Regions from separate parts of the Homo sapiens genome. Here region 2 is linked to region 1. The links come from fine-mapping of genetic effects on gene expression. A gene starts in region 1. The other region holds a variant in brackets. All regions are shown on one strand. Distances are from middle to middle.

The links. PIP is the estimated chance that this variant, and not a neighbour inherited with it, causes the effect.
Region 2: its variant is fine-mapped to the expression of IL1RAP in whole blood (INTERVAL, PIP 0.97).

What each region holds. Positions count from the first base shown.
Region 1 is chr3:190,509,638-190,518,830 of GRCh38, reverse strand. It overlaps IL1RAP (interleukin 1 receptor accessory protein), which reads right to left and starts at 4,746. Exons shown (of 12, transcript NM_002182.4): 1 at 4,612-4,746. RefSeq lists enhancers at 3,556-4,055, 4,056-4,557, 5,310-5,399 and a silencer at 4,810-5,159.
Region 2 is chr3:190,561,320-190,570,751 of GRCh38, reverse strand. It overlaps IL1RAP (interleukin 1 receptor accessory protein), which reads right to left. Exons shown (of 12, transcript NM_002182.4): 3 at 6,399-6,463. The coding sequence starts at 6,462. Among named protein-coding and RNA genes, the nearest start is that of IL1RAP, 52 kb to the right of the region's middle. RefSeq lists an enhancer at 3,696-4,895. The variant G/C (reference allele first, on the strand shown) is at 3,772.

The DNA.
Region 1 (9,193 bases):
GGAGATGATTGAATCATGTGGGGTAGGTCTGTCCCATGCTATTCTCGTGATAGTGAATGGGTCTCACAAGATCAGATAGTTTTCAAAATGAGAGTTTCTCTGCACAAGTTCTCTTTTTTGGCCTGCTGCCATCCACGTAAGATGTGACTTGCTCCTCCTTGACTTCCGCCATGATTGTCAGGCCTCCCCAGCCATGTGGAACTATAAGTCCAATGAACCTCTTTCTTTTGCAAACTGCCCAGTCTTGGGTCTGTCTTTATCAGCAGCATGAACACAGACTAATACATAGGCCATGCTACGTAACTCTATGAGCCTCGGTTTCCTAAAAAAATATACAGGATTATTGTGAGGATTGAATGAGATGATATATTTAAGATACTCAGCACAAATAATGATGGAGACAAGTAAAGAGTACCTGTTAAATTATGATGATCGTAATTTAACAGACTAATACATTGAAGGAGTTGTTAGCAGAGGACAGAATCAGTGTTTATTAAATGTTTTCTATGAATAAGATGTTGAAATAAATAGGGACTTAAGCTTCTAAGCAGGCATCAGTGTCCCTATTTCCTAGCTGCAGAGCCAAAAGATCATCTCTATAGAATAACTTGCCTCAGATTTCAGCCAGACTCTCAAAATCCACACTACCACAGCTGCTACAGAGAGTTAGAATAAAGTCAGACCAAAGGGATGTCTCCTAACAACCCTATCAGTGTAAACCATGCATTATCATTTAAAAAAAAAAAAAAGGCAGCAAATGAATGGCTAACCTGAATTTATCCACCGAAATATCACTTACCAAATGTTCTGTAACCTTCCTATTCTTTGGTGTTTCTTTTTTCTTTTCTTCTTCTTTTTTTTCCATGCAGAACAATTTCCAAAATGGGCAAAGAGCACAGTAGGTGGCTCTCTTTAATATTTCATGGGCAAGGCAACAGTGACTCACCAGATCCTACATCTGTGTCACCAGCAAAAGCCTGATGAAGTTGAGCAACAAATGAAGCTGTGTATAGGCTGGAGATAATCTTTGTTTTTTTCTACGTCCTCTGATTTCCTCAAGCCACATTCTGCTTTCCTAACCGTGCCAGGTAAGATGATGCTAACTGCTTACCTATAGGAGCAAACATATGCTCCAAAATGCCAAAAGCAAGGAGCAAAATGTTCCTTCTACATCTGCGTTTGCAAGCCTGTGTGCTTGCTACAAAGAAGAGAAATCTAATGGCCTATGAGAAGTCTCAGCAGATGAACAGCCCCACTGCCTGGGCCAGAAACAGATCCCTTCATCTTCCAACATGAGCCTCCAGCCATCACTTTCCACAAGGAGGAGTGAAACTCCAGACAAGTAATCAGCACCACCAGGAAGCAGTGGTCTCTTTCTGCAAATGCCACCTTTGCACATTATTCTGTCTACTCTACTCAGTACCCACAAAATTGTCAAAAAAAAAAGTTGAATAATGCCATGGACACTCATAACATTTGTTGTTCAATCTTCTTCCCAGCCTTTGAACTAGCATGAGGATGGCAGAGGGAAGAAACCACTCACAACAGGAAGAAAAGAGTGATATAATTCTGTACTTTATGTCTTCTTAGTTAGTACCCTTTCTCTTAGGAATCAAAGGTGTATTACATCCAACACAGGAGAGTAGGAAGGTTGTCTTAGAGACCATTGCTTTAAATACCCTCTTATGACAGTTGGCTCCACTAAACTCTACAGAACTGTGCTTAAGGATTGTTCTCTTTGCAAGAAAATACCTGCTTTTCAACAAAAAGGATATCCTGAAATAACCAGACAAATAAGGTCAACTTTATAACTGAAGTAAATTGTTAAATATCTCATTGGCGAGGAAACAGAGTGTGATGGGAAATGCCCTAAACTAGACATGAAAAGGTGTGAACTGTATTCCCAGAGTTGAAACATACTAACACATGACCTCTAGCAACTTTTCATTTCTCTGAGTCTCATTCCAGTTATGTTCTAAATAAATTGAGACTAGCTAAGAAGAGATATCATTTAATGAGCACCTATTCACTACATGTACTTGACATTATTCTATTGAATTTATTCGTTATACAGATTTTTAAAGTAAGCATTTTTTTTTTCCATTTTAGAACTGGATAAAACAGAAACTTCAAATGATTAAATAAACTGCTCAATATCACCCAACTACTCAGGCATGAGAGCTGGAATTTGAAATCAAGTAGGTCTGACCACAAAACCTGGGCTCCTTCCTCTATTAATATTCTTGCCATGTCCTCCCAGGGCTATTGTGAGTAACAAGGAGTATCATATATACAGAATGCACTTTGGAAATTTTAAAGTTCTATACATATATATGGTTTTGGTAACAAGTAATAATCTGTATGAAGATATGGGTATAATTGACCAACCTTTCTTTGAAGAATCAGAACCAAAGGAATTAGCTTTTAATCTCCCTTCCATCCTCATGATCTGACCTTATTTTGAACATTTTCCTTTTCCCCCACAAGGCCCCTGTCTCTCAGGCACACATTCAGTCATATCCCAGCCAGCTCACCACAATGCATGTACATGGAACAAGCTGATAGAAGCAGGTGATCCCATCCTTTACTAATGCTTGGTGCGGGAGGTACTTAAGTGGGCACCACTGGGCTCTTATCTTCCATCAAGATGTATCACACTCTGTTCTCAAGCACTTACCAATACTGCATACAAATGCTATGGCCTGTGAAGGAGGCAGCCAACTACAAATGCTGGACACTCAATTTAAGGACGCATGGCAAAGCCAGTAGATAGTAGTAAATTATTGCATGAAGTTCATCAGAATAAAATCAATTGTCATGAGAAGGGTTAAGGGTGTGGGAGGGAATCCATTTAACTTTAAAATACCAATAATACAGGAAGACTAGTGTGGGCATGTGAATGTCTGTGTGTTCGTGTTTAAATAAGGCAAGTTTGTGTCCAGAAAGGTTTGCATTTAGCAGCATCTCTGTACAATCCAAAAGAAATATATGAGAATTTTGTTTGTTTTCTGATACTAGATGAAAAATGTAAGGTTGCTCGACTGACCTAAGAGAGCAAGGATAGAAGGCTTAGAATAATCTGTAACACAGCTGCAACTTCCAACTTTGTCTTCTTGTCTTTCTGCCTCTCACCCATTTCAAGACCCTCTTTGTCAATAAAGGATGTCTCAGATCAGGGCAGTTCACAGGCCTGAGGTTTGACCTAAAAACTAGTAGGAAATTCATATCACCGAGAAACATCAATTTTACATTTCGAGCTAAGCATCCATGATCCACATCACATATGGACAACATTCAGAAAATTCTTATTATAAAAGAGTTGCTCAAATTCAAAAGAAGAAAGACACCACATTTACAGATTTTTTTAAAATGCCTCTGTAAGATGGTATGAAATCACCTTTCTGAAAACCCACTGTCTGCAAGGTTACTATGTAACAATATTTACAATAGTTGCCATTGGTTTTGAACCAACCAGATGCCAGGCCAGGCACTGTGCTAAACATGCTACTTGAATGATCCCATTTCATCCTTCCAACTACCCAAAGGGCTCATTGTGACCATTATAAATCTCCATTTTTTGGCTGGAAAAAAAAAAAAGGAAGAAAGAAAGAAAAGAAAAACCCAGTATCGGAAAGGTGAGATAACTTGCCCAAGTTCACACTGCTAATACATGGAAGAGCTGGAGTCAAAACTCAAGTCCTCTTTCTCATCCAGTAGCTAAACCAGGGATCTGTACAGCAGAGCAGCAGAATGCTTCGCGTGGCGCCCTGGTTCACAATTTCACAACCAGAAGGTGGAGGGAAGACAGGCTGTGGGCTAGCTCTTAAAGGAAACAGCCGAAGTTTGCTTTTATGTTTGTGATTTTCTCTTTAACTCAGCTTCCTTGCTCCCTCTCAGTATTTAGAAGAGGGAAGGGGCTCTATGGTTCCATGAAGTCAGCTCTTCCCAAGTGAGGGGCACCCTGTGCCCCACAGGGCCACTAGCTCCGCTTCCTCCGGGGCTGGGAAGAAACAGTACCATAGGAGGTCACTGGCGCCCGGGCCTCGCTCCTCTCTCCCCGCGCTCCTCCAGAAGCTGGTCCGACACCCTCTGAAGGGGCATCTTTCTGAGAAAGCAGGTCAGGGGAAGAGGGAGTGAGGCTGCAAGCAGCATTTTCCCAGGCTGTCACAGCTCTGCGCTGAGAGCGACGTGATACCGAGTGGGCGTGCTGGGACACACCGCTTCCTTCTGTCCTCGGCGCTTCCAGCAGCGGTCTGGAGAAACCAAGGAGGAGATGGGGGCGGGGGGTGGTAGCGGGGAGGGGGCGGTGAGGAGGAAAACAAGGGTAGACCCCTCAAAGGGCTGAGGATGGGGGCGGCAACGAGCAGACGTCCCACAACCGCGTTACTTAAATCCCTGCAAAGCAAAGATGGGTCTCTGAACGTTTGGGTTCGAATCCGGGCTCCAGTCCTAACTAGCAGTATGACCTATCCCAGCCGCTGCCTCGTTCTGTGCCTCAGTTTCCTCTTCTGTAAAGTAGGAGGGTTTAACGATAGGATCTCTAAGAATCCGTCTACCCTGAGATTCTGCGGCTTGGTGACTTCTGAGCCCTCACGGCGGCGCGAGACTCACCTTTCTTGGGAAGCTGAGAGGGCGCAGCAAAAGCAGCCGGGATGGGTGCAGTGTCGCCGGGCACTGCTTCCTTCCGCGCCTCTGGCCAAAGCGGACCCCGGAGACCTGGATCCCGGCAGTCTTCCCCAGTGAGCCTCTTACTTTCCGCCGCACTTTCTTTTCCCCCTTTGGGGCTCCTCCCCCGGAGCGGCGCGATTGGCCACGGCCTCACGGCTCAGGCTCCACCCGCCGCCTTGGCTCGCGATCCACCGGCGCTCTGGGCTTCCAGGAGCTGCGGCCGCGGGGCGGCGTCCTGGACGGTCCCGCCCGCCGCCAGGAGGCGCGGCGCCGGGCCCGCCTGCGGACGGATGCAAGGCTGCGCTCGGCCCCTTCGGCTCCCTGCCACCGCCTGTGCGGGCTTGAGCGCGCGGGGAAAGGAGAGGGTTAGTCCTGCAGCGCAGCTCGGCACGCTGCCAGGCGCTGTGGGAAGCTACGCCCCTCACTACACACCGAGGCGCACACATGCGCTCATTGCAAGATCGTGCTCTCGCAGTTGAGATCGGTGCCACCCTGCCCTTTCTTCCTGTCTCGACGTATTTAGCAATCATGCTGCAAGGCCTTGAATCAATTCAGACTGCACGATTTTCGCAACCACCCTGTGCCGGCACAGAGCGCGGCAGGATGTAGATGCGATCTCCGCAGTCCTGAGCTCTTGCTGTCTTGAACTGACATTCATATGAGCAAGCAACAGGACATGACAGCAAGACTAAATCTGTATTGTCCACTGGTAATATACCCATTGCCTAGCACAGTGCCTGGCACAAAGTAGGCACTCAATACATGTATGGGGAACGAATAAAAGAACTAATAGGTTACATAGAAGGAAATAATCTCAAAACAAATATTTGCCTTCATTCATTTCCATTTCCCCAAGTTTTTGCAAGAGCCTTCCTTCAGCTGCCCTCTGCCACTGTAGATGGTAGTCTGTAATATATCCCGGGAAGCGTTATAAAGGCTTTCATTAAGTCATCTCTCTTGTTCAGGCACCTTCTGCTGTGTTCCTACTGCTAGTGCCTCATGATTTTTCCTGACTGGCAAGGCCCTTCATGACCTGTCCCCATTTCTGAAACCCCCTAACCAAAGCCACCTACCAGACTGACGAGTCTTCGCACATCTTCTTGCTCATCACATCTTCTTTTCTCCTCCTCCTACCTAACTGAATCCTACTAATTTATTTTCAAGAATCAAGATTCAGAGAAAGCATTTAAGGAAAAGGAGAAAAAAGATGTGAAATAAGAAAAGGGCCCAGGTGAGTGGGAAGGAAATGAAACCAGCAGGTGCCCGTGCTGCTAAAGGTGCACAGCAGTACGAAACTCAGAGGCTGCCCCTGCCCTGGCGGAGCTTCAGTTCCTAAGGTGAAATATCAGTGTAATTGGAGCCATAGAAATGTTCATGATACTTTACTTCTTGACATCACTTATGAAAATTAATTGCTCAAAATTTTTATTTATCTCAGGATACCTGGGACCCAGCACCTGCTCACAACATTGTCACTGAACCAAAGAGAAAATAATCCAAAAGAATTTAAAATGTTACCTGTATGAAGCAACAATAAAACATTTTCTGATTTATTATTCATTCCTTAAATATATTCTGGGCACAGACTTTTATATATATATAGTACACTGAAGCATTTACACAGTGCTTACAAAATAAAAAGGTGCAATCATAAGGACTTTGTGTATATTAATTCAGGTAACCCTCAATACAACCTGGAGGGTGCTATTATTATCTCCAGTTCATAAAGGAGATAAAGGGAATTTAAATAACTTGACCAAGGCTACAGGCCTACAAGTGGAGAATACAAAATGAGACTAGAGACACTCGACGTTCATGCTCTCAGCCGCTACTCAGTCTCATGTACTACCTAGAAGCCAAACAGATGCTAGTAATTCAGAATTGAACCAGATGTATATTCCCGGACATTGAAGGGCTACTCATAGCTTAAGGAAGATAACATTAAGATGAATAATCATATAGACAAATATTCATAGTATATTGTAGTTTGAACACAATATAAATGGTTGGAAATGAAAATGATTAGTTAACCAACGCTGTCTACGCACAGAATAAAATATTTGCATCATAACTATCATATTATGGAAATATGTCTACAAAGAAAAAGGCTTACAAAATAAGGTTGAGTAAAAGTTGTGGAGAGATGAACACCAATTGAAAGGAATGTGAAAAAATGTTGATATGTTAGGATTACAGAAATAGAAACATCTCTTTTTCCTTTTACATTTAAGTGAAATAAACCAAGCACAGAAAGACAAATTTTGCAAATTCTCACTCACACGTGGGAGCTAAAAATTAAACAAAGGAACTGAGATATGAGAGTAGAATGATGGTTACCAGAGGCTGGGAAGAGTAGCAGAGGCAAGGGAGTTGTGGGGAAGGGAGGATGGTTAACGGTTGCAAAAATATAATTAGCTGGAATGTATAAGACCCAGCACTTGATAGCACAACAGAGTGACTACAGTCAACAATAATTAATTATGCATTTTAAAATAAGTAAGAGTGAAATTGGAATGTTCCTCAAAGAAGTGACAAATGGTCAAGGTGATGACACCCTGTTGTCATTACCCTGATGTGATTATTACACATTGTATGCATGTATCAAAACATCACATGTCACCCATACATATATACACCTATTATGTACCCGTAATAATTAAAAATGAAAAAATGTTATGCTAACAATTGAGAAAAATATTTTAAAGCTATACCCATTAAATATCCATCACATACTAAACATTTGATGAATAATAGTTGCCTAAATGAATAAATGAAGCTACAAATTCATTGATGTCAGTGACTAATACTGCTGGATGTATAGAAGATGCACAATAAAATATTTTGCAATTGATTGATGTATTTGGAAAGGTATTATTATTCTCTTCTTCTCCCAGCTTTTACCCTCCACCTTTTTTTTAGGTTATCTTTAATTATCTTGCTGTAGCTGTAAGACGCATCAGGAGTTTGCTAGTCTCTTGAACCCAATCCATTCAGACATTTATCTCTACCACTCCACAGTCAGCATCTGTAATGATCTTCACTTTGCCAAATGTGGTGATCAATTCTCTGTCTTCATTGTACATGTATCAGCAGCATTAGACACAGATAATCTGTTGCTCTTTCACACTCTCTCGTACTTGACTCTTTGTTTTTCATGTATTTCATCTGCTGTTCCTTATCAGATTCTTATTGAATCCTCTACCTCTTCATGATCTCTGAAGGTTCCAGTGTCCTAGAGCTCAATCCTTGAAGTGGTTATATTCTCTACCTAGGGGAACTCAGACAGACACATGGCCTTCTAAAATATCAATATGATAATAACTTGCAAATCTAAATCTAAAGCCCAAACCAGACTTTGTATACCATATTACCTCCTTCATATCTCCTTCTTGGATGTTTTAAATACATCTCAAACTTTACATGTTCAAATTCAAACTTTATTTCTGCCCCACACCAAACCAGAGCTTTGTAAGCAACACTGTCTTTTACCCAGTTGCTCAGGTCAAAAAGTTGGAGTTATCACTCTCTCTCATTGCCTGTACACATTATATCCACAAACCTTCTGCTTCCTCTACATTCAAAACACATCTCAAATCCAACCACGCTATTCCTCTTCTCCATCACAACCACCATGGTTCAAGTCATTGCCATCTCTCCCCTCACTGGTGTCCCTGCTTAAACTCTTACCCAAAGAGTCTATTGCCCTTACTTCAGAGACCCTTATAAATGAAAATAGAATAAATACAGGCTAGTGATTGAGGTCAAGGAATCTGAAGCCCGACTACCTGGGATCAAGTTTACATAATGTGGTCAAGTTACTTAATTTCTTTTTTTCACAGTTTTATTCTCTGAAAAATATGAATAACAATGACAATAATATACATTATAGTGCTGTTTTTAAATTAAATGAGATTATATAAGTAAAACACTTGGCATGGGGATTGGCATGTAGAAATGCAATATAAATATTCATTATTCTTTTACAAGAAATATGTCATTCTCTGCTTTCAAATAGTGATTTCTTATCATGATCAGATAAATTTCCATAGTCATTTATGGCCTAAAAGTCCTTGTGTGGCCCTACATGATCCAGCACTGAGTTGCTTCTTTCAATCTCCCATAGCATGCTCCTTGCTGTCGACCAAACACACTAACATGTTCCCATACTAGGGTGTTTGCACCTGCTGTTCCCCCTTGCTGGACCGCTGTTCCCCTGTTGCTTGTTCTCTCCTCTTACTCACATCTTCATTAATGTCCCTGCTCCACTATAACCTTCCCAGCAAAGCTTTTCCTGACAACCAAGTCAAATAATACATTACGTAACATTTTAATTAATTTACTTATTGAATGCTGTTTTCACTAGAATGCTAACTCCGGGAGGGTAATATAATGTTTCCCTGGCAAACAGACAATATTTTGCACGTAGTACTCATTGAATAAACATTTGTTGAGTTACAATTCAGTCCAAAACTCTCATGGTTAAACTTTGATACAAAGATATTAAGTGACTTATATATCGCCCTCT
Region 2 (9,432 bases), 52 kb before region 1:
TCTACAAAAAAATACAGAATTAGTTGGGCATGGTGGCAAATGCCTGTAATCCCAGCTACTAGGGAGGCTGAGGCAGGAGAATCACTTGAACTTGGGAGGTGGAGGTTGAGGTGAGCTGAGATCGCACCATTGCACTCCAGCCTGGCAACAAGAGCGAAGCTCCGTCTCAAAAAATAAATAAATAAATAAATAAATAAATATGAAAGTATCTCAGAAGTAAAAAAAAATGGGCTGATGGATAAGAGCCTTAAACTATTTCAGACCCTACAAACACTGCAGAAAAGTGCTATTTATTTCCCAGTAATGTATAGCTATACCAAGCATTTTGGTTCCTATGGTAGAAGGAGAAATGAATGTCATAAAACACAACAGAATATGGTCTAGGTTGCTGAGGAAGTGATTATTTTATTTATTTTCTCTCATTGTCGTAGTCATCTTGCATTTTCATTATTCCCACTATCTCTAAAACACGCAAAGGCAAAGCCAGAAAATTTTGTACATCAGCTTTTATAGGTTTGGATAGCAGGTAACTTGAAGGTGACTGAGGTTCCCAAATTATTTGTTAAATGTATCCATTTTCTCACTGTTCCTCAAAAATAAATGAGAGATGGCAGCACTCAGTGGATTTAAAAATAAAGCAATCATTGTGTTGTTATCCTGGGTGGGTATATATTTTATTTTCTAAAAAGTTAATCAGTTAAACAGAAAAGAAACTTTTTAAGTGGTGAAAGAAAAGTGGGTAGAAACTGGTCTTGGTAGTGAGTCACTGCTAAGGTGGCAATCTGGTCCCTAAAATATGGTAGAAATGAATATTCAGGGTTGGGGGAGTGAGGGAAAGGATAGCAAAAACAAAGGTAATTCAAAGGGTAGAATAAATTCTTGTAAAACAAACATTTTTTCCTACAACGGTATGCAGGAGTTCCTACAAAAATACTGGTTTCCTTTAACTAACACAGCCATGTGAAAAAGAACCAGGTCATTTTTCTAAACTTAGAATTATCACTGTGATACAAGAAGCTGTGTATTTGCAAACTCAGTATCAAGCCAATTATGTGGTACTTAAATTTCTTTTCAATCAGGCTACAGTAAATCCACCCTTGGGAAATATAAGTAACTAAAATATAAGTGTGCTTCAAGCTATAAACACAGCTAAAGAAAAAAAAAAAAGTGAAGAGATCTGCTTCCGAGAGGCATCATTTAAATGACAACAGGGTGAAATTCTGTAATTCCAATGACCTTTAGGACTAAGAATAAAATGAAACAGTATTCTTCATACATTTTCCAAATGTTTGGACTAAATTACATAGAAATGAAGAGTGTTCAGGATGACCAGCCATGGGCAACTGGGACAGGACACAATGTCACAAGTATATCTGAGCACGGAGTTATTAAAGCAAGGATATTCAAATAAAATGAGGCCACTGGGGCTGGTAACAAACTGAATTCTTACCAAAAGGTGAAAGAACCATCACATAGAATTAATAATAGTGTATGTCCTTGCAAAAATACGACAGAATTTAAAAAAAGGAAAAGAAACCTAGCCAACTATAACCAAAATACATTAAATGTGGACATTCTCTTTACCTGAAGTAATTCCCGTCCTGCATAATTTGTTCCCAACCTACCTTTCCAGCTTGGCTTCTAAATGCCTTTGCACTATCTTTTGAGTTGCCCTGAACTATTTCATTCCCAAATAAGAGATGCGTTTCTTCCTAGGAAGGAGCAATGATTAAGTCTTCCCCAATATCTCCTGATAGGATTGGTAACTTTCTCTGCTCTCACGGAATTCTATTTGGTAATTATTTCCTCTTCCTTCTCTCAAACTTTACTGTATTCCTCTTAAAATAAGAAATTCCTCTTACTAACCCTGGATTCTACAATCTAAAATGGTCAAACGCATGATCTTTAGAATAAAGTGAAATCATTGTTAACATTGTTATTAGAAAGAATTTAAGTAGCTAATAGGAGTATACCCTGTGTGTGTCCATGATGCATAGTGTTCCTTCATAAAAATCAAGAAACTGGAATTGACTGGGATCTGCTGCTATTGTTTGTTAATTGTTTGGTTGGTTGGCTTGGTTTATAAATAAGGATGCAATGACAAAAAGTGATGAAATGACCCCTTTACTGTCATCAAACAAGTCACAGAGTAAAACAGAACTTGAATCTCTCAATTACTAGGAAACCACAGTGTTTTTTACTATTTATTTATTTTGCATTGTATAATTCACTCCCAATCATTGGATAGATGATTTCCATTCTCTACCAATTTTGTAAAATATAATGGAAAAGGAATCAGAGGATCTTACTTCTAGTAGCAGAGCACAGTCCTAAAGAAAGGCAATTATAGTATGGAAAAATAAAAAAGAGCACTGTTTCTGGAGTCAAGGCAGCCTGGCTCTATCAGGCAAGCCAGGCTATCATGAGCACTTGGGCCACCTCCCTGGATCTTCATTTCCTAAACTATCAAACAGGTAGAAGAGTCTCCAGCCCCTACCCCTGTACAATGGTTCCTGCGAAGTTCCTGATAATGTGTGTGAAATCCAGCCCTGCACCTGGCACACAGTCAACTGTTGACTTTGAAATAAAATCTTTCTCAAAGATCCGTGTGTGTGCCTGCATTTTGGGGTGGCAGTGTACTCTCTTTTTCATGTGATTTGTCCAGCAAATAATTTTGATATGGTAATATTTTTTAAATTCACTATATTCTATATGGTGCTATTTTTATTACCTCCTCAACTTGGGATCACAGGTTCCAAAATTTATGTCTACTCCAAAGGCAGCTTTTAACAGTTCAGCTTCCTGACACACTGCCAATGAGGCACAGCAAAAGAGACGTGTATTGAGCTGAAGTTTCCATTTCGAAGTCTTACAAACAGAACTTCTTCGAGTTTATTAGTGAAAATATTTAATACTATAATAAGCAAAAAAAGGAATATTGGGTTTGAATTTTGTATTACAATCATTTTCCTCCTGAAGAAAATGTTTCAGTGCTGTGAGGGGGCAGGATAAGCGTGTAAGGATATACCTTACCTACAAAGCATAGAAACCTATCACAGAGTGGTTCTTCAACAGTTTGCAAAATGATTACCTGTGATCCCTTAGATCTTAATCTTTTTTCTTAGTAATTTATATTCTAATAGACCCCAACTGGAGCATATTTCGTAAAAATAATATGGATGTCAGGAATCCAGAAACTCGTTGAAGTCACAAGCATGCTAAGTATAGCTGTGTGACTTCGAGTAATACAATTAAATACTTTGATCCTAACTTGTCTTACCCAACAAAGGTAGTTACAACAGCTCTGACTACCCCATGGTTTGGGTGTGAGACTGACATTGAATATGTACAATGCAAACTGCTTTTTTAAGCAAAGGGAGCTTTATTATTATTACTATAACTAGCACATTATAATTATAGAATCGCTATTATAATTATCCAAGCTTTAATTCCTTAAAGGGAAATAAAGCTTTCTTAAAAAATCATTTGCTTTTATCATCACCTAAGATGAAAATGTTGCTCCCCCATTCCTGAGGGGATAAGGGGATCACAGTACTGCTACCAGAAAAATCATGATCGGAAGTCAGAATCGTATGACTTCACGGCCAGTTCACTGCGTGTGAAAACACATTGCATGGCGCTAAGTTCTTATGCTTTTATGGTTTCTTTTTTATATTTGAGGATTCTCTTAAAAGGCCCACATGGAAGGACTCAGAACAAAATAAATGTCTTACTAATATGATACGCATGTAGATTGCTTTAGGGTTTTCA[G/C]AACATTTCTGCTTTGTTCCTCACATCAACCTGTGTTTCCGTTGAGATGGGAACCTGAGCACAGGGAGAGCCTCATGAAAGACCAACAAATCTGTCAGCATCCACAGATGCCTTGTAAAAGGCAATACTTTCATGTGCAGAGAGGTTGGTTGATCCCTCAAGATGCGCAATGATTTCTTTCTTCCCCCACTAGCCCAGAGCCAGTTGCTCTTTTCGTTTTTGTCAACAACATGTCCTTTTTGTTCCTCTCCCTCCAACTAGGAAGTGGCATCACTGTCAGACACAATACACCTCTTCATAAGGAAGGCAAATGAGTACGTGCCAGATGGGCTGAGGGGATTACAACATGTTTCCTGCTCCCACGGTGACGCAATGTGGCTGGTATGAGAACTTATCTTATTCAAGAAGTTAGCTTCCCCTGGCAGAATTATGAGTCACAGTTCCTGGATAGAAAGCTCTCTTACCAACAGCACTTGAGGTGGGGGCTGGGGACTCCTTGGATGGATTACAGTAAAGGTCATTCAGAAAAGTAACATGGTCAGGACTGCTGGGAAGGCACCAGCACTCATTAGCTTCTGGAACCTCCATGATCCTTCAGCAATGGTAACACAGTCACCTGTCCCTCTTCCTTCAGGATGAGGGAGGACATAAAACCACATGATGAATTACTGGCATGAACCCAAACACGTTCCATTATAAAACTGGACAGTCTGGGGGCAGGGGAAAGGATGTAAAGGGACATGTATTCAACCATTTAACACCTATGTATTGAGCATCTGCTATGTGTCTATGTGTCAGTATTATTCTGAGTGTTTGGATAACAAACAAAAGTTCCTGAACAAGTTCCTGCCCTCAGGCAGCTTAAAATCCAAGACAGAGGGAGGGAAGGAGGAAGAAAAAGAGATGGAGAGAAAGGAAAGAAGGGAGGCAGAAAAGGAGGAAGGACAGGGAGTTCAGGAAGAAAAAAAGGAAGGAAAAGGAGGAGGAAACAAGAGAAGAGGAAGAGGGAGGAGGAGGAGAGAAGAGAAAGAAGGCTAATATAATATCAGGGAATGTGAGTGTTACAAAGAAAACTAAAACAGGATGGAGGGAGAGAGAGTGACTGGTAGGGATTTTTAGTTAAGATGGTCAAGGAAGCCTCTGTGAGCAGATAGCATTCAAACATAGAACTAAATCAAATAAGAACAAACTAAAATCAAGAATTATATTTAACATATTTGAAAATCAGGACATCAAGAAACTCACCTATCAAACGCGACACCTAACCAAGCAGGACAGATGCTGGACTAAACAGCCAAGGAGCTGTCTCCTAGCGCATCCCAGCCGAATAACATCTCCGGTTATCTACAGCCATTCCTCTGTGAAGCCCCAAAGGGCCAACAAGGCTAGAAGTTACTGCTAGTTTCAGCACTGAGCTGTACTCTGTCCTACTTATACCACTCCTTTAGTACTATTTTTGGTTTCTAATACAATGTTTTATGTGGCATAGAAAAGCTGAAACGCACCCAGAAAAGATGATCAGGATGGTAGGAGAGCTCAAATCCATGTCATATGAAAAACAGTTGAAGGCATATATTGCAGAACACTGAGGTCATGGTTATATGGTAGCTAACTTAACATTGCAGAAGCCCTCTCACAAAGAAAAGGAATTAAAGCAACGATATGTAAAGTATGGTTTATGGTGTTCAGGGGAATTTTACATGAAAAGCTTTATAAAATGAGGACCTCTAGGTTCCCTTCATTACAATTAGAGAACCATTGCATTAGGTTTTGGTTGTTTTGTTTGTTTGTTTGTTTGTTTCTTTTTTTTTTTTCAGTCCTACAGTTGAACCAAGTAAATGTTTGGAAAGAGACAAATTTCAGTTTTAGATACTAAAATCAAAGAGACAAATTTCAGTTTTATGTACTAAAAACTTTCTAAGAATTTGATTAGTCCAAAAACATAGGCTGAAATGTAATGATTAATAGTCAGAGATAGAGAGTGATTCTGGGCATAATTCTGGGAAGAAGAGGAGATCTGAAAAGATGGACTTTCAAATAGCAAGTCTCTTCCATATCTAATTTCACGTGATCCAGGCCCATGATGACTGAGTTTGGTTTTCAAACTCTATAAAGGTCTTAGCTGGTTCCTCTTATAAAGCAACATCCAGAGAAAGAATGAGTCTAAAGACAGATCCTTTCTTTTTCCTATATAGAAACAATATGACAAAAACTCATTATTTTATTTAACATCTCAATGGATTATTACCACTGATAACTTTTCCACCACTGGCTCAAATTTGAAAAACAGATTGTGCTATTATCACTCCCATTTTTCCCCCATAGGACCTGAGGTAAGGGAAAAAAGCAATATTCTAGTTGGCTGAGTGTGAAGGTAATGAAAAATACCTGTGTTTAAACACAGCGGCCCACTGCCCCCTGTGTACTCTATCCCATGAAGACTAGAGACAGCAATGGTTCTTTCCATCATCAAAATTCTATTATTCTGCTTTATGATTATTTGCTACCGCAGAAGACAATGGACATGAATAACATTATGTTTATTTAAATTCATTTTCAGGAAGAGTGGACTCATTACCCTACGCATGACTTGCATTTTAATACATTGTCAAAAGCCATTCACTTACCTGAGGCATCACTTTGCAGGATTCCATAAAAGTAGAGACTCACTACACACCACAGAAGTGTCATCCTGTAACCATAAATACAAAGGTAAGGGAAATCACTTACTACTTTCAAGGGCTTAAATAATAATAACTAGCATTCATGCCTGCTGACTATAGACTAGGGACTGTTCTAAGAATTTTACAATATTAACAAATTTCATTGTCAGAACCAACCAATAAGACAGGTTTTATTTTGTTTCTGTTTTTTTGTTGTTTGTTTTTCAATTCCCATATTACATGCAGATAAAGAAGTTTAATACACAGGTTTAAATAACATAACTAAGATCCTTTGGCTAGAGACAAGTTTCAATAACATCACCACGATCCTTTGGCTAGAGAGTGGTAGAGCTATGATCAAACTCCAGCTTTCTGGCTCCACAACTCTCTTTTTCACTGAACTATAACTGCCTACTTAAAAAATATTCATCTGGATTTTTTGACCAGGATTTACATTTCTGGCAGATAAATTCAACCTTCTTACCCCTCTTTGCATTCCCTTGGTCTATTTCTAGTTGGAATACTTTACAATCCAGGTACTTTTCCCTTTTAGTGACACATAGACACATAGAAAGTCTAGAAATCCTGGATTCAGACTTTGTCTGCAATCTACCATACTGTGAATTTATATTAAGGAAAATATATAAATCTAATTCCTGCTGTTCGTGCTCTCCTCTTCTCACTGGAAGACAGAAATGATGAGGGAGGAGTCAACTTTCTATGATCTTTCGCCTTCCTATTAATAACCAGCTGAAACAGCCAACTGCTGTGAACCATACCCTTACATTTGGTTGCATGATATTTAATGCTGAAGATGTGGAGATTTGACAGCTCTGTGAAGTATTTCTTTTTCTACTACCCAAGAAATATCTGGCCACTGGTAAAACCTCTGTGGGTTATAAATACTGAAACCTGAAGATGATGCAGAAATTCCATGCTCAAGAACTCTGCTTTCTGTGTCGAAGGTAACAGCCATATAAGAATGCTTGCAGAGGTCTTGATAACTTGTCCAGCTCATATTTCCAGTAAGTGACAAAGATGCTATTTATATCCACATTAGGCTAACTACAAAGATTATTATCTCAAATAGCCTATGCCACAAGTTTCACAACCACAGGTATGCAGCAGCTTAAACAGATCAAAGAGGTATTTGATAAATAAGATGACCATATAACATCATTTAAAATGGGCCAATTTTAAGAGCATTAAATTATAACAAAAGATATAAACTACACAAGGAATCCAAGAGGTGTGGCCACCCTAAAGGACTATGCAAGTTTCCAACTCCCGTCACCTCTCTTGACCACACCTCTCCAAAAATCTCTGGTTCATGCTTCCTTTTTTAGCCTGGTTGTACACAAATCACAGGTGAGCTCGTCATATCACAAGCTGTTGTTTCATCTGATAAATTAAATGATGTTTTCTTCCCAGCACCTCTTCCTTCCAGCTCTTATATTATGACCTTGGGGAAATCTTTTTCTCTCCATCAGTCTTTCATTTATTCAATAAAACATGTATTGAGCATTTTCTCCTTCTTTTCCAAATTTTTTAGTTTGTGTGTGTGTGTGGTTATGTAGCAGATGTGTGTGTGTGTGTGTGTGTGTGTGTGTGTGTGTGTGTGTGGACGAGATATGTTTTGATACAGGCAAGCAATGTGAAATAAGCACATCATGGAAAATGGAATATCCGTCCCCTCAAGGATTTATCCTTTGAGTTTCCAAGTTGCTATGATACAGCTACGAAGCCTCTCATGGGCAAAATGTAGGGTCTTCTCTAAAGGCACTTTTCCACAGTAAAGATGAACCCCCAGCAAGACACTTTAGTATCATCAACTATGTATAGAACACACATCTAGAGACACTTAAGAGATAAAAAGAGTTACCAGACAGAAATTCTAGCACTAGGCAGGGTCTAACAGAAACTTAAAATGTGCACCAAAAAAAAAACCCCCTGCAATATGAAGTAAAAAGTGATAAAAATAGAGAGGAACAGATAAGTGTTATTGAAGATTAGCAAAGGAAAGAGGTCACTCCAGCCAAGACAATAAAAGAAGACGAAACACAAGAGGTGACATTTGAACTGGTATGGATATTTAGACTTGAGACAGAAGGAACATGTGAGAAAAAGAAACTTTCAGTGGAGAATAATGCTCAAAGGTAGTGAAAGCATAGAACACAAATGGAAAATAGTATATAAAGAACTGAGTTTTGCTCAAGCACAAGGTTTTAGAAAAAGAACTACAGAAGATTTTGTTGGAAAGCAGACAGTGGTAGAATCATAATATGGCAAAGCCTTAAATAACAGGCCAAAGGCTTGGGATTTAAAGAGCAAATAGGGAGTCACCAAAGTTTTCTGAGTAGGGGAGCAACATGACCCTCAAATTGTACTTTATAGAGCACTGCCAGGCGCGTATTAGATAGATGGCTGCTAAATTCTGTCTTGAAGTCATTTTGGCTCCTGAATCTGTTATCACAATAATTGCTATCTTCCTAGCTTTGTGACATCTACAGACTTGATCAGCATGCAACCTATATCTTCATCCAAGTCATTAATAAATGTAATTAATAATTCTGCATTAAACTTGCCAGCAAAGAGCAACTAGAGATTTCACTGCATTCAGGGAACCGTAATTTCAGCCCCACTTCTCAGCTATGCTAAAGCAATACGCCCTCCCAAATTGCTGTCAGCTATTTAAAAACCCCCACATACCTCTAGATTTTCCCAGTTTGCCTGTTTATAAGCTGCTGAATTCCTAAGGCAACATTTATAAGACATTCTAATTAGTGTGATTGAGGGCCTTAATTGATATTCCCAAGAGTAACTGGATTATGCTGAAGGCAGCAAAGAGTCAGGTCACCAAGGCAAAGCTAATCTAAAGATAACCTGTCTGCGAACACACATCCAGGGCCAGTCCTGCCCTGTGATGAATTAGAATAAAGCAGACTGAAAAGGAAACGTGATTGAACAGGCTGGTTTTGACAGATTAAAGGTACCAATG